Linked DNA regions of Homo sapiens: region 2 is linked to region 1. Evidence: fine-mapped expression QTL. A gene starts in region 1. The other region holds a variant in brackets. All regions are shown on one strand. Distances are from middle to middle.

Evidence for each region. PIP is the estimated chance that this variant, and not a neighbour inherited with it, causes the effect.
Region 2: its variant is fine-mapped to the expression of TMEM45B in whole blood (INTERVAL, PIP 0.99).

The regions. Positions count from the first base shown.
Region 1 is chr11:129,811,245-129,819,768 of GRCh38, reverse strand. It overlaps TMEM45B (transmembrane protein 45B), which reads right to left and starts at 3,921. Exons shown (of 6, transcript NM_138788.5): 1 at 3,871-3,921. It overlaps LOC124902793 (a long non-coding RNA gene), which reads left to right and starts at 5,082. Exons shown (of 2, transcript XR_007062952.1): 1 at 5,082-5,801.
Region 2 is chr11:129,854,175-129,862,174 of GRCh38, reverse strand. TMEM45B (transmembrane protein 45B) reads right to left here. Exons shown (of 6, transcript NM_138788.5): 3 at 7,359-7,565; 4 at 6,283-6,467; 5 at 4,717-4,862; 6 at 2,172-3,601. The coding sequence ends at 3,490. Among named protein-coding and RNA genes, the nearest start is that of NFRKB, 37 kb to the left of the region's middle. RefSeq lists enhancers at 47-341, 1-447. The variant C/T (reference allele first, on the strand shown) is at 4,815.

The DNA.
Region 1 (8,524 bases):
GCCTGACCAACATGGTGAAACCCCGTCTCTACTAAAAATACAAAAATTAGCTGGGCGTGGTGGTGCACGTCTGTAATCCCAGCTACTTGGAGGCTGAGGCAGGAGAATCACTTGAACCCAGGAAGCGGAGGTTGCAGTGAGCCGAGATTGTGCCACTGAGAGAGACTCTGAGTCAAAAGAAAGAAAGAGATGAGACAGAGAGAGAGAGAGAGAAAAGAAAAGAAGAGAGAAAAGAAAAGAAAAGAAAAGACAAGACAAGACTCTTCTGGAGCATGCCTCTGCCCGTCTTTCTGCTGCAACTTGCGGAAGTGAGTATGAAAGCTCCATGCTAAGGAGGGTGGTGCGGGAAGACACAAGGAGCCTGTCTCAGATGACGTTCATATCGGAACCCCTTTCCCAGCCCCAGCCTTCTCACCTCCAGACTTCTCGTTCTCTGAGAAAAACAAACTCCTTACTTGTTTAAGCCGCTGTAGTAGGGTTTTCTGTTCTTGTAGCTGAATGAACGTCTAATGACATCTCACACTTTTTCAGATGTTTATCTGACATACCACATTTTATGTATGCCTGCTATGGGCACTGTGCTAGGAATAAGACAAGTAAAGCTCTCTTTGTCATGGAACCAGGAGCACAGTTAGAACAGAAGTTAGAACTTTAGCCACTATAATAACGGCTACAGTTATAATAACAGTTAGAACAGAAGGTCCATAGGCATTTGAGGCTGGGATTCAAGGAGGTTATGTTTGCTGTCACAGACCTCAAACCAAAAGAGTACATCAAAATAAGTCACTGGATTTATACATTTGGCAAATTCTCAAGGGACCACATGACAGAAGGAGCAAAAATCTGAACATTGTTTTTAGCTGTAATTCTCCAATGAAGTAGATTTGGGGAAGCAACATGAGGTACTTGCTTTATTTTTCTTAAATCCGGTTTTCTTCCTTGAAAAACCACAAGATTGGACTTGACAATCTTTAAGGTTATACTCAGCTCTAAGATATTTTTGTAATTATATGGAACAAAGATGGGCATGAAATATACCAAACGAGAGAGTTTCTAAATTTAGATTCTGATAATTCAAGTCAGAAAACATATTAAGTGTTCGGGAAAAACAAATCACAATCTTCCATCACAAAATTCAACAAGAACAACAAAAACCACTCCAGAGGCAGCTGTGGTATTCTGGAAGGAATGTTGGTTTGAGTTCTGGCTCTGCCATTTAATTACTGGCTAACCCTGGACCACATACACAATATCTCTGTTTCCATCTCCTCATTTTTGAAATACGGATTCTAATCTGACCTGAACAGTGCTGTTTACAAACATCGCCTTGTGCTCTATAAAGCCCCATTATGATTTCAACAACCAGCAAGATAATGGCTTATGATATCTAAGTCCTGGCAAGGAGAATGCGGGTGTGTACCTTGCTATATTCAGTTGAACTCTGCATCACATACAGAAGGCTGATAGACCTTTTAGCTTTCCTTTTTCCTCCAGTAGTGTAGCTTGTGGCCATTTAAGTTTTACACAAGAGAATAGAAAAGAGAGATAAAATTTGCTAAAATTCAAATAGTCTATTTGTGTTTGTTTCTAGCCTCAGTGAAGGTTTTGGGGAGAGGGGTAGCTGGTTAAAAGAGTAGAAGCTTAAGAGTTCAAAGAAAGTGTGAGGAGGACAGCACTCACCTGTGGCCTCTAATTGTTCATATTCAGTATGGTCTCATACTGGGAATAATCTAGTGTTTGTCTTATGATCTTTCTATAGAAACAAATATGGAATGTGTCTATAAGTACCATTAGTTGATGACACACTAGTGACTTTAATTCTCTTACAGTAAAAAGTTTTGCAATAGCAAGGACTTTGGCTAGGGGAGTGACTCTATGTGTGGTGAAACTGTCCTCACCCATTTTTCATTTGAGGAAAAGAGATAATCTTTTGATTACACCCAACACAGGTAACATCTGTACTTTGAACAGTTAAGTATAGCAGCTGATGTTTAACTGCAGGTAGGGGGGAGATGAGAAACAGAAATAACTGGTGCCAAATGTGAGATTCAATTACCTCGACCATCACAACCAACATCAACCAGAAGGGTGTGGGAGGAACTCATGGAATAAATGGGAACAGGTGTGGCCTGAGGATAAGTAAGTGGGGGCACTGTTTCCATCTTCATGAAGATGTGAGAGGAAATCAAAGCTCTTTAAAAAGAAGGAAATGGAATGCTTGGCTCCTGTAATATCAGAACAAATAATGCACAGCCAGAGGTCATGCCTCACCTTCTGCTTATCTCAGTCACCTCCACTTGTAAAATCAGTGGGCCATATTCAATAAAACCTTCATATCAGTTCCATATCTTTTCCCAGAAACCCCAGGAACAGAGGGAGCCAATATCCTTATTAAACCAAGAAGCTCACTGTCACAAAGAGCTAAGTCTGACGCCCCTGGGCCCCTACCTAACCACGTGTCCTGATTCTTTCCATAACTTCCCACTGCACAACATCCAGGTTATACTGAAGATATTACACATCTGGTTAAAAACAGTACACGTCTCTCATGAACAATAAGCCATCCTTTCTATTAAAATGAGTGTAAAATTGCAGGTAAAATGCTGTAGGCAGGCCTGTTTGGAAGGCTATGCGACCCTAGGAGACAAAAAGGTGCAGGAGGAGGAAAAGGGCAGACACCGCAGAAAGCGGTCGAAGAGAACGTGAAAGAAGTGGCCATTTCTAGCTGGGCGCGGTGGTTCACGCCTGTAATCCCAGCACTTTGGGAGGCTGAGGCGGGTGGATCATGAGGTCAGGAGATCGAGACCATCCTGGCTAACACGGTGAAACCCCGTCTCTACCAAAAAAAAAAAAAATACAAAAAATTAGCCGGGCGTGGTGGCGGGCGCCAGTAGTCCTAGCTACTCGGGAGGCTGAGGCAGGAGAATGGTGTGAACCCGGGAGGTGGAGCTTGCAGTGATCCGAGATTGCGCCACTGCACTCCAGCCTGGGCGACAGAGCGAGACTCCGTCTCAAAAAAAAAAAAAAAAAAAAAAAGAAGTGGCCATTTCTGCAACTTTTAGGAGAGCTACCTGCCCTCAAATTTTGAAAGGGTTTCTATTTCTTAAAGTGCTACGTTTCCCTGGCTGAAACTCACATCTTTCTTCCCTCTAGGGCTGGATCAAAGCTTCAGAGGTTGTTTCTCTGGCCCTAGACAGGGCCACCCCCGCAAATTTCTCCCCCACTGCGCCTGACATCCGCTTCCATCCATGGCTCCATTAACGGAAGCTAAGCACTGGCTCGGGGGACTTTATCCACCGCCCGGTGTTATTAGATTCCAGGCTTCCTGGCCTCAGGAAAGGATCTGGCTCGTGTATTTGTGTATCGCAGCTAACAAGGAAAGGCAGTCGGTACCAGTGCCCAGAGCTATGTGAGCTGTGACTGGTCACAGCCCAGGAGCCAGATGGCATCCCCGGGGGCGCGCGTCCCCGGACTCACCGGGCAGACGGAGGCCCGGGGCTTCACACCTTCCCCTCACCGGGCAACGCGGCAGACCTGACTCGCGGGGGACTGAGCAATATTCGTTCCAGGGCCGCGGCCAGCCGGACAGAGGCACTCGGGGGCGGTGGGAGTAGTGTGCGCACCGGTTCCGCAGCCCGGAGGGGGCCCCAGCTGGGCTTCCGCGACACCAGGGCCCTCCATCCCCTCCCGTCCTCCCCTAGCGCAGCCTTCACCCCTGTCCCAGAGCCCCTCCCTGTCCGCGTCCCCTCCCCCGCAGGTCCCCTGCGAGTCGGAACCTCCTCTCCATCACAGCCCCGCTCCTTGGCGGGGCCCCCTCTCCCTTCGAGCCCTCCTCCAGGTTCGAGCCCCCTGCGGGTACGGACGTCTGACCTGTGCCCAGCGCCTCGCAGCCGTCTGCAGCCCGCGCCGCGCGCCAAGTGCGTCCGCCCAGAAGCAGGTGCAGCTCCAGGCCCGCCCCGCCCCGCTGCGCCCCGCCCCGCTCCACTCCGCCAGGCCTGGCAGCCGCCAGCCCCTTTCCACCCTTGACCGCCCTTCCCGGTCCCGGCCAGCGTGCGGGGCATCTGTCGTCAGGTCCGCACTTCCTCCAGGCCTTTGACTTTCCCGTGGAGATGTCTCTGGCCTCAGGAACTCCCTAAGCTGTGTGCTTCAGGAGAGGCTGGTTCCTGAGTCACCCAAGAGGACTGCAACCAACCTGGACCTCCTGAGATGCAAAGAGATCGCAGGGCCTGGGAGGCGGCGAGGACCCTGAGAACAGGCTGTGGCTCCGAAGAGTGTTTGTTACCAAGCCAGGCAACCACTGCGAACACACCGCAGAAACAGCCACGGATCACCGTCCAGCAAAGGAAGAAGGTGCCAACGGTCCATCAGGGACCACAACCCAGTTTTTTTAGTTTAAGTTTGGTGGCTAAGTTTGAGTGTCACATAGTTCATTCATTCCTTCATTCATTCAACAAATCTGCCATGTTCCCATCTGATAACAGATCTGACAGGTGGGCACTGTTCTAGGTGCTGGCGATAGAGCTAAGAAGGAAACAAAGTTCCTGTCCCGGAGAAGGGGGCTACCTGCTGAGGAGAGCATGACTTTCTTTGTGGTATTGTGCTGTGGCAGCAGGGTCCTCTTCTGTAAGCTACTGAGAGGTGAAACCCGCTGGGCTTCTGGGTCGGATGGGGACTTGGAGAACTTTTCTGTCTAGCTAAAGGATTGTAAAAGCATCAATCTGCACTCTGTGTCTAGCTAAAGGTTTGTAAACACACCAATCAGCACTCTGTAAAAATGCACCAATCAGTGCTCTGTGTCCAGCTAATTGGTGGGGACTTGGAGAACTTTTCTCTCTAGCCAAAGGATTGTAAATGCACCAATCAATGCTCTATGTCTAGCTAAAGGTTTGTAAACACATCAATCAGCACTCTGTAAAAACGGACCAATCAGCACTCTGTAAAATGGACCAATCAGCACTCTGTAAAATGGACCAATCAGCGCTCTGTAAAATGGACCAATCAGGAGGATGTGGGCAGGACCAATCAGGAGGATGTGGGCGGGGCCAATGAGGGAATAAAAGCTGGCCATCCGAGCCAGCGGCAGCTGCGTTTGGGTCCCCTTCGATGGTGTTGGGGTTTTGTTGTTTCGCTCTTTGCAATAAATTTTGCTGTTGCTCACCTTTTAGGTCCACACTACCTTTATGAGCTTTAACACTCACAGTGAAGGTCTGCAGGTTCACTCCTGTAAACCAGCGAGACCAGGAAGCCACCACAAGAAACAACTCTGGAGCCGCCACCTTTAAGAGCCATAACACTCACTGTGAAGGTCTGTGGCTTCACTCCTGAAGTCAGCGACACCACGAACCCACAGGGAGGAGCAAACAACTCCAGACGCACCACTTTTAAGAGGTGTAACACTCCCTGCGAAGGTCTGTGGCTTCACTCCTGAGGTCGGCGAAACTACGAACCCGCTGGGAGGAAGGAACAACGCGGATGCGCCACCTTTAAGAGCTGTAACACTCCCTGCGAAGGTCCGCGGCCTCACTCATCAAGTCGTGCATAGACCACGAACTCTCTAGAAAGAAAAAACTTCGGACACACCTGAACATTTGAAGGAACAAACTCCGGACACACCATGTTTAAGAACTATAATGCCGTGAAGGTCCGCGGCAGGACCGGGACCAGGAACTCTTCAGAGGGAACCAATTCCGGATACACAGCTTCGTGGAATGGTTCTGCACTGTGTGTGTGTGTGTTTCCCGTCAACCCTGTGCACACTATTAGAAGAACACAAGCGTTAAGGCTCCCTCTCAGTCCTGCCGGTAAGAATCCAGGGCTGATGCACCTATTAAAAGCTTCTCAGGAGGCCTGGGGAAGTGGGGGTTGAGAACCACGGGTCTAGATCTCTAAGATGCCTGGCAGCTTATTCCACTGTTGAGGGCACTGGCAATCAGGAAGGGCTTCATGGAAGAGATGTTTGCATTTGGGTTTTAAAGCAGGGCCACAGCTAGATATTAGCAGTGCAGAAGGACACGGGATCCGACGGGCAGCCTGTTGACCAAATGGCTCCGTTTTTATAAAGTCAAAGAACATCACTGTGAAGGATAAGGCATTAACTGGAGCAGACCTTTCCCTGGTAAAACAGAGCGAATGGGATCTGGTGGGAGGTGGTAATGGCCAAGAGGTAGTGCCGTCAGTGAAAAGCGTCATGGAGTCGTGCACCTTACAGGGAGGATGGGCCGCAGCCAGGAGCTGAGAGGGCATCTTTTAAATTTGCCGTCAGCTCAGGAACTTAATCACACATCTCATCCTAGCCCTTGCTCACACCCATTGTTTTAGAAATCGTTGATAGAGTGGAGTCCTGGATGCCTGTTACTCTGGGAGAGGCTGTCCTCTGTCACCAGATCCCTTTTATGGACAGGCATTTTCTTTAGTAATATTTACCTTGTCTACGATGATGAAACAAAGGTGTGACCTCTTAATTGTATAGTTAATGGTGAGTAGAGATGCTTTTTTTTTTTTTACTTTTTATTTTTGAGACAGTTTTGCTCTTGTTGCCCAGGCTGGAGTGCAATGGCGCGATCTCGGCTCACCACAACCTTGGCCTCCTGGGTTCAAGTGACTCTCGTGTCTCACTCTCCTGAGTAGCTGGGATCACAGGCATGCGCCGCCATGCCCAGCTAATTTTGTGTTTTTAGTAGAGTCGGGGTTTCTCCATGTTTGTCAGACTGTTCTTGAACTCCCGACCTCAGGTGATCTGCCCACCTCAGCCTCCTAAAGTGCTGGGATTAGAGGTGTGAGCCACCTCGCCCGACGGAGATGCTTCTTAATATTAAAAAATCTAAACAAAATAATTTCTGCTTCAAATTATAATAACCAGGTACCAGGACAAAACCAATTTTTTGTTGTGTGTGTGTGTGTGTGTTTGAGACGGGCTCACTTTGTTGCCCAGGATGAAGTTCAGTGGTGCAATCATAGCTCACTGTAGCCTCGACCTCCAACGCTCAAGAGATACTCTTGCCACAGCTTCCTAAGTAGCTGGGACTACAGGTGTGCATCAACACGCATGGCTAATGTTTACATTTTTAAAAATTGCAATAGTTTTTGGGGAACAGGTCATTTTTTTGTTACATGGATAAGTTATTTAGTGGTGATTTCTGAGATTTTTGTGTACTCATCACCTGAGCAGTGTACACTGTACCCAATGTATAGTCTTTTATCCCTCACCCTCCTCCCACTTTCCCTTGAGTCCCCAAAGTCCATTATATATATATATATATATATATATATATATATATATGTATGTATGTATGTATTTTTTTTTTTTTTTTGAGACAGTCTTGCTCTGTCGCCCTGGCTAGAGTGCAGTGGCGCAATCTCAGCTCACTGCAACCTCTGCCTCCCAAGTTCAAGCGATTCTCCTGCCTCAGACCTCTGAGTAGCTGGGACTACAGGCGCGTGCCACGACGACTAATTTTTTGTATTTTTAGTAGAGACAGGGTTTCACCATGTTAGCCAGGATGGTCTCAATCTCCTGACTTCATGATCCGCCTGCCTTGGCCTCCCAAAGTGCTGGGATTACAGTTGTGAGCCACTGCACCCGGCCCATTATATCATTCTTATGCCTTTGCATCCTCATAGTTCAGCAAACCCTTATAAGTGAGAACATACACGATATTTGGTTTCCCATTCCTGAGTTACTTCACTTGGAATAGTGGTCTCCAACTCCCGTACAAATTGCTGCAAATGCCATTACTTCAGTCCTTTTTATGGCTGAGTAGTATTCCATGGTGTAAATATATCACATTTTCTTTATCCACTTGTCAGTCGAGGGGCATTTAGGCTGGTTCCATATTTTTGCAATTGTGTATTTTGCTCCTATAAACATGCAGATGCAAGTGGCTTTTTCATATAATGACTTCTTTTCTTCTGGATATATACTCAATAGTGGGACTGCTGGATCAAATGGTAGTTTTACTTTTAGTTCTTTAAGGAATCTCCATAAAGTTTTCCACAGTGGATGTACTAGTTTATATTCCCACCATCAGTGTAAAAGTGCCCTTTTCATCACATCTATGCAAACATCTACTATTTTTTGACTTTGTAAATTATGGCCAGTCTTGCAGAAGTAAGGTGGTATTTCATTGTGGTTTTAATCTGCATTTCCCTGATAATTAGTGATGTTGAGCATTCTTTTTCATGTGTTAGTCATTTGTGTATCTTCTTTTGAGAACTGTCTATTCATGTTCTTTGCCCACTTTTTGATGGGATTATTTCTTTTTTTCTTACTGATTTGAGTTCCTTGTAGATTCTGCATATTAGTCCTTTGTAGGACGCATAGTTGAATATTTTCTCCCATTCAGTGAGGTGTCTGTTTACACTGCTGATTATTTTGCTGTGCCGAAGTGTTTTCATTAGGTAATATCTATTTATTTTTGTTTTTGTTAGATTTGCTTTGGGGTTTTTGGTCTTAAAATCTTTGCCTAAGCCAATGTCTAGAAGAGTTTTTCCAGCGTTATTTTCTAAAGTTTTTATGGTTTCAGGT
Region 2 (8,000 bases), 43 kb before region 1:
TTGCGTATCTGTTATTTTCAAGAATCACATTTCACATAGAAAGCCATGTGACAGTTTTTAAATTAAAAAAAAAAAAAGGTAGAAATTCCAGAGATCTTGTCTTAGGTATTTACTGCCAGCTACAAACAAACCCCTTTTGAATTTACTTAACAAGGAATTTAATAAAAGTAGCTCTGGCATTCAGCCGCAGCCCTGCCCACATTCCTGTTAGCTGAGGTCACCTGACTCTGCTTGTCGTTTTTGCACAGGCAGACGTGTGCATTCTGGAGAGCAGGGAGTGAGTGTAAAGTTTAGGCTGCGTCAGGATGCTGACTCCTCAGAAGTGTAACTTCGGCACTATCCAGCCTGTGGGTGGAATGGCAATAGCGGAGAATGGGAACTTCCTACTGGAGCTGTTTACGGTGACAGCCCAGGATTTGTGCCACACTTGCTTCCTTCATATGCTGGCTTCAGGTTTCTGATAGATGAATGGCACAGCTATGGTGAGTGTTTTGTTTTTGTTTTTGTTTTTGAGATGGAGTCTCACTCTGTAGCCCAGGCTGGAGTGCAGCGGCAAGATCTCAGCTCACTGCAACCTCCGCCTCCTGGGTTCAAGTGATTCTCCTGCCTCAGCCTCCTGAGTAGTTGGGATCAATCACAGGCACGTGCCACCACGCCCTGCTAATTTTTGTATTTTTGGTAGAAATGGGGTTTCACCATTTTGGCTAGGCTGGTCTCCAACTTGTCACCTCAGGTGATCTGTCTGCCTCAGCCTCCCAAAGTGCTGGGATTACAGGCGTGAGCCACTGCACCCAGCCATGGTGGGTGTTTTGTAGGGAACAATTTCAAAAGGACTTCTGGTGGCAACCATTGAGCCTCTGGTTGACAGATATGGGTAAAATTATTCAGAAAACATATCTAAGACAGGATGTGGAGAATAGTACTGTCATCAGTTTATACTTTAATACCACATCTAACAATGTTTATGATAGGGTTGATCACTTCCATGAAGGCATCACAAGCCTTGCTGTGTGAAGGGCATCTGAATACATTTTAATATTTTATATCTGTTCTTCACACCTTAGCCCCTCACTCTGGAGAAAATAGTACATTTTCTTTCTTAAAATATGGTACACTTAAAGAAACCTCAAATGTGGATCTTTTCTTTGAAAGTAAAACTGAACAGGTCCTTCTGCCCACCTGCAGTCCCCAAGGAAAGAACACATGTTACGTTCATTGCCAATAATAGGTCCTTCAGTACTTGTTGAATGAAGAATACTTGTGTTTTTCCACTGGCCAACCAAGGTGGATCCTGAAAGTGGAACCCGGAGTTCTCTAATAACTAAATTAGTGTTTTTAGTAGCTCATTTTGAATCCCTAAGCTGTGACTTCAACTCTGAAAGGCTGGCTAACTCTGGGAGGTTACCTTCACTTAATTAAGTACAGCATTTCTTCCAAAGCGCATGCAGTGCTTTATGTAAATTCTCTCTCCTGGATTTGTGTGACGTAGCAGGGTTAGAATGGTGAGACAGATGCCTGGTTTTGGAGTCATAAGACTGGCTTTGCCACCTAGCATCTGTGTGGTCTTAGGCCAGCCAACTTTTCTTTTTTTTTGAGATGGAGTCTCACTCTGTTGCCAGATTGGAGTGCAGTGGCATAATCTCGGCTCACTGTGCAACCTCCGCCTACTGGGTTCAAGTGATTCTCCTGCCTCAGCCTCCCAAGTAGCTGGGACTACAGGTGCTCACCACCACACCAAGCTAATTTTTATATTTTTAGTAGAGACAGGGTTTCACCATGTTGGCCAGGATGGTCTCGATCTCTTGACCTCATGATCCACCCGCCTCGGCCTCCAAAAGTGCTGGGATTACAGGCGTGAGCCACCGCGCCCTGCTAGGCCAGCCAGCTTTTCTGAAAGACCTCATGCTCTTACACATTACAAGCGGTTGTGAGAATCAAATGAGATAGGGTGCATCTCAGAATCTGAAAAATACTATGCACACGGAAAGTATTATTTGGTCTCTAAGGCCCATCAACTTGGTCCTAACTCACTTTTATCAGTTTGTAGAACTTAATCTTTTTAAGTTCTCCGTATTTTTTTATGCTTTCATTTTTTAATGTGCTACCCTCTCTACCTGGGATGTGCTTTTTCTACAGGGCAAGCTCTGCATTTCCCCTCCTCTCCTTTTTCTCATCGTGGTTTGTACTTGCCTCTCAGCACCCATCACACTGGATGTAACTACAGGCATGTCTCTCCTGTTTGACTGTAAACTCCTTGCTGGACACATATCTCAGGAGTCCTTACAGCCATTTCAGTGCTGTTGCAAAGTGGATATTTAATAAATATTTGTTGAAGGAAGTCTGTTTGCTTGTTTTTGAGACAGAGTCTTGCTCTGTCACCTAGGCTGGAGTACAGTGGCATGATCTGGGCTCACTGCAAGCTCCCCTACCGGGTTCATGCCATTCTCTTGCCTCAGCCTCCCGAGTAGCTGGAACTACAGGCGCCCGCCACCACACCCGGCTAATTTTTTGTATTTTCAGTAGAGACGGGGTTTCACCATGTTAGCCAGGATGGTCTTGATCTCCTGACCCCGTGATCTGCCTGCCTCGGCCTCCCAAAGTGCTAGGATTATAGGCGCGGTGAAGGAAGTTTTTTTAAAAAAAGAACAGATCCAGAAGCAAGATTAGGGTATCAAGATTTTACATTACTAATTCTGAATTCGTTATCCTTTGCTTTCAGCCATATTAAAACTGAAAGCCTTCCATACCTGACGTTTTTCTATCTCATTATACAGCTTTCCTGTCAGATCTTCTTTTAGGGTGACTTTGAAGAATCAGAACATCAGGGCTCCAACTCTCAGTAGAGCCAGTAACCAGCTTCCTGATTTAAAAAAAAATCACCTTTGGCCTAATTTTGTCACTTATAAACAGTGGTATTGCAGTACCCTGGTATGATTAGTTATGATATGTTTAACAATAATTTTAAAATACCAAAGCTTGTGAATTATTTTACTTTCAAAAAATATGTAAGTTAGAATTGTAATTCTAAAGGCACTGTCGTTTGCTTACACATTCTAACATATTTCTAATAAGAAAGTACCTGCTTTCTTAAGAGAAAAAGGGATAAGTTACCAAAAGCAGCACGTTCTCCTGGGCTCATACCCCGGATTCATCCATGAGGCCACTTCCATTGTAAAGCTTTTAGCATCTCTTGATTTCTCTTGACACTGAGGCACAAAGGCCTGCTACTTATAGGCATTACTTCATTTTTCCTTATGAAGGGTACTATACCAACACAGACTTTATAGTATGTTTAAAAATCCCAACTGCAAGATACACAGGATGCTGTAGGCCTGATTTCCTGTTGTAGAACCTCCAGCCCTGTGTTGAATGAGGAGGTGCAAATATATAGACCCTTAAGATCAGACCACAGCAGGCATTCAGGTGGAGGGGATGAACTCCATTCATTCCAGCTGTGCAGTGGGACATCTGCGCCCTCCGCATCTCGGCTCATTCCTCATCTGAGCCACTCAAGAGGGCGGTCTGGTAAGTGTCATCTGAATTCAGCTTCTGAATTCCAATGATTTCTCCCCTTCCGTGTCTCTTCATCCGAGTCAAAAGGCTTTAATAGAGAAAGAGTAAGAGCCAATTAGCCAGAGATTCCCTTAATCCATTACCAAGGATGTGAAGGCATCTACTGATTCTTAAACTATTTTCTTTATATTTCTATCAAATACTGTGATTACATGTCTATAAACTAGACTTCTTAGGAAATATTCATCAGTAGATAAAGGGGCGATGGTGGAAACTACTGAATGTCATAATTGAGGCCAAGGTCTTGCCTATCTTGGTTTACTGTTTCAGTGGCTGGGCAGGAGAACTAAAAGAAACTGACTTGAGCTCCCTTCTCTTTGGTCCGTGTGGAACTCTTTCTGGATGAAATAATGGCAAAAATCACCGTTACTTTTGCACCAACCTAATATTCTGCTTGGGATCTAGAGAAATGACCTAGAAGAAAAGGTAGAGGCAGCCGAACAGCAAATAGAACTGGTAATACCATTTGCTAAAATTCACCCTTGCACTGAGAGGCTCTGCCATTTATTAGTGGGGTGACCTTGGTCAAGTTACTCAGCTTTTTGAAGCCTTGTTTTCTCCACCTGTAAAAAATAACAGTGCATACTTCATAAAGCAGTGAAGATTAAATGGGATAATAGAGTGTAGCTGCTTTCCACTGGGCCTGGGGCGCAGCAAGTGCATAGGAGTCCATAGCTGTTATCTGTATACCTCTAAGGAGCCTTCAGTGAGGGGTGGAGTGCAGTTTGTCTTAACATTCTGCTCTGGTTTATTTTTTGACTGTCACATCATTTCTGGGAAGCAGGGAGGGCAGGTCTGGAAATAAGATGATGGGTCCAGAATGAACCCTTTACGTGGGGACTGCCATCCAGTACTGATTCCCATTTCAGTATTCCCCACCACACCATAGGCTTAAAATCTGTGAGACCTGCATTTGAAACCTGGGTCCCTCAGGTTACTATGACTTTGAAAAGCCCTCAGGTCATTAAACTTTGAAAAGCCTCATTCCCCTTGTTTGCAAATAAGGGTAGTGATACCTTCCCTGCATGAGAGTACCTTGCACAGAATTTGGCCTGTAGTCGGCACTCATCAGATGGTGCAAGTTAATCACATCAGTCCTGCTTAGAGTTAGGAGGAAAAGCTTCACTGAAGTCTCAGACATACCAGTAAACAAGAGAATAGTTGACGGCCACAATGCTGAGGGCAGCCAGGTAGTGCCAGCAGAAGCACATGGTGATGAACATGAGGTTGGCATCATCCTT[C/T]TGGTCCCATTCGGGTGTTCCAAAAGGTGGGAACAGCACAAACCCAATCTAGGGGATTACAGAGAGAAGTTGGTCTTGTGGTTGGTCGTCCTGAGAAGCAATCTAGCCGTTCTCCTGTGGCCACCGAAGTGGCCCATGTGTGACCACCGCCTCATAGTTCCCACACTTCGTTAGCATAGAAAGGCCTTTTCACATAGAAAAATGGCTCTGGCCAGGTATGGTGGCTTACGTCTGTAATACCAGCACTTCGGGAGGCTGAGGCAGGCGGTTTACAAGGTTAGGAGTTCAAGACCAGCCTGACCAACATAGTGAAACCCTGTTTCTACTAAAAATACAAAAAATGAGCTGGGCATGGTGGTGGGCACCTATAATCCTAGCTAACTGGGAGGCTGAGGCAGGAGAATTGCTTGAACCTGGGAGGCGGAGGTTGCAGTGAGCCGAGATCATGACACTGCACACCAGCCCGGGCCACAGTGCGAGACTGTCTTAAAAAAAAAAAAAAAGCCGGGCGCGGTGGCTCATGCCTGTAATCCTAGCACTTTGGGAGGCTGAGGTGGGTGGATAATGAGGTCAGGAGATTGAAACCATCCTGGCTAACACGGTGAAACCCCATCTCTACTAAAAATACAAAAAATTAGCCAGGCGTGGTGGCGGGCGCCTGTAGTCCCAGCTACTTGGGAGGTTGAGGCAGGAGAATGGCGTGAACCTGGGAGGTGGAGCTTGCAGTGAGCCAAGATTGCGCCACTGCACTCCAGCCTGGGCGACAAAGCGAGACTCTGTCTCAGAAAAAAAAAAAAAAAAAAAAGGCTTCAGCTTAATTTTGGTTGTATAGGCTTACTTAAAAACACAAGTCCAGGTGCAGTGGCTCACGCCTATAATCCCAGCTCTTTGGGAGGCTGAGGCAGGCGGATCACTCGAGTTCAGGAGTTCGAGACCAGCCTGGCCAACATGGTGAAACCCTGTCTCTAAAAATACAAAAAAATTAGCCAGGTGTGGTGGCGGGCACCTGTAACCTGAGCTACTCAGGAGGCTGAGGCATGAGAATCGCTTGAACCTGGGAGATGGAGGTTGCAGTCAGCCAAGATTGCGCCACTGCATTCTAGCCTGGGTGACAGGGTGAGTCTCTCTCAAAACAAACAACAAAACAGAACTTCAGGGCCCACGTTTCCAGTGGACAGTTTAGCAAGCAGAGCCTGTGAAAGGCATCAGCCCATCCTCTGGGGAGGGCAGCTGAACGTCACCGTGCATGCTTTAAATTTTGGATTGCTAATGCATCCTCTGGATGTTAATGGATAAAACTAGGAGTCAAAGGGCGGGCATGGGGGGAAAAGGGTCATCTAAACCCCTTTGCATGGCATGTTAATGCTGCATTTTCAGACCCCATATTCTCGTCAGGGATTTCTCTGGGATGCGCTCGGTGGGGGCTTCTCCATCCAGACCAGCGAGGGGCCTGGGTGTGGAAAATCACCTGCCAGAACCAGGTTCCCTGAAGAATGATGAGACTGGTTCGGAAAAGTTCCAGCACAATGTGGTCCCGGAAGATCACCTCTAGGGAGATACTAACACACCCTCCGAACAGAGCATACAGCAGGAGTGAGTGGATGTGCTGGTCCAGCGGAGGCCGGTTGTGGACGTGGTAGTAGAAGAGGAAACCTGCCACAAACCAGATGGCAGCTGTCAGGGCTACGCTTGGCTTTCACCATCACCGAAGTTTCCTCCTACACCTGTCTCAGCTAGGTTCTTCAGCATTTAGGCAGTTAGTACATAACATTACAGGCAGCAAACAGATGCGAGTAAGTGTATTTCATGAGTATGTTAGGAGTATAAAGCAGCAAGGGATTGTATCTTAAAATCTCTATGGAACCCATGGTGGGGTCAGTATAGGATGGGCCGGCTGAAGCATGTTGCTGATTTGTAACAGACTGTGTGTGTATACTTGAAATTCAGTTTTGCCCTCAACCTTTTTCGACTCTTGCTGAGGTACAGAAGTGAGGTTGTTAGATGACAAAATGTATTTTCATACCCCAGTCAGTGTGAGTCATACTGGCAGCGCTCCCCTGGCAGTGGAGTGGGTCTCCTGAGGCTTGTGATGGAGGCAAGACGGTACCTCCCTGGGCAAAAGGTAGAGTGTGGTTTCGCTTAACCAAAGGGGTGTATCCCCTGCATGGTGGCATTCAACCAGCTGGGGCATTGTGTGTACCCGCATGTGTATGTGCGCACATACGTCCACACCGAGGAATATGCACGTGTGTGAGCAGGGGCTGCTGGCGGCAGTGGGAAGGCGAGGAGGACTCCTGCAGTGTTAGCCGGGGCTTTGGTAGCTGCCTTCAAGCCTCAAAGCTTTCATGAGCTACTTTAGGGAATATGTCACCTGGCCCATCCAGAGTAGAGCACTAGGTCCTATTCAGGTTTTGGCAGTCCAGAGATGTGGATTTTCTGGGGGAGGTTATTATATTTGCAACATTTCTGATATTTTGTACTCTGATCCTTCATAAATATGACTTGTCAGGCTCTCCTTCCTCTCCATCCGTTCCACAAAATTACCTTCCATGAATACTGCCACAGCCATAACCAGTCTGTCCACCCCCAAGGGAACGTGGCTGACCAGATAGGTGAGCATGTCAACAATTCCTGAGACTGCAAAGAATAGGTACATGGTGCTGTGCTGCCAATTCATTAACTTTATCCAGTGGTTCTCATGGTAGAGGTGCAGGTGGGGCCCATCCGGAACAAACTGCTCTGCCAGGATCCCTGCAGGGAAATGAGGATGGATGTTTTAGAGGGAAGAGTAGCTCTAAGACAAATAGGAGCAAGGAATAACCCAAAGGCATGAGCGAAGCGGAGATGGGGTGAGGTGAGGGTGGCCCGCGGGTCAGCAGAGCTACTTTGCTGCCTCAGGTGCAGCTGCTTCAGTATAAAGTAGGGTGTGTGCTGAGTCACCTGTGTAGACATCTTGCCATTGTTGTTCCTTTTAGGGGTTTGGGGTTGAGGGTAGAAGAATCAATGAACACAACCACACACACATAGATCCCCAGGAGGTTTGTCCAGGAGCAGAGATGAGCAAGACATCATCACTTAAGTCGGAGTGTGGCTGATAGAATAATCTCTGGGCTTCCCTGCCAAGTGAGCAGTGAAAGAAATCCCAGACAGAAACAATTAGGCTGAAAGCAGAATCTGAGCAGAGAC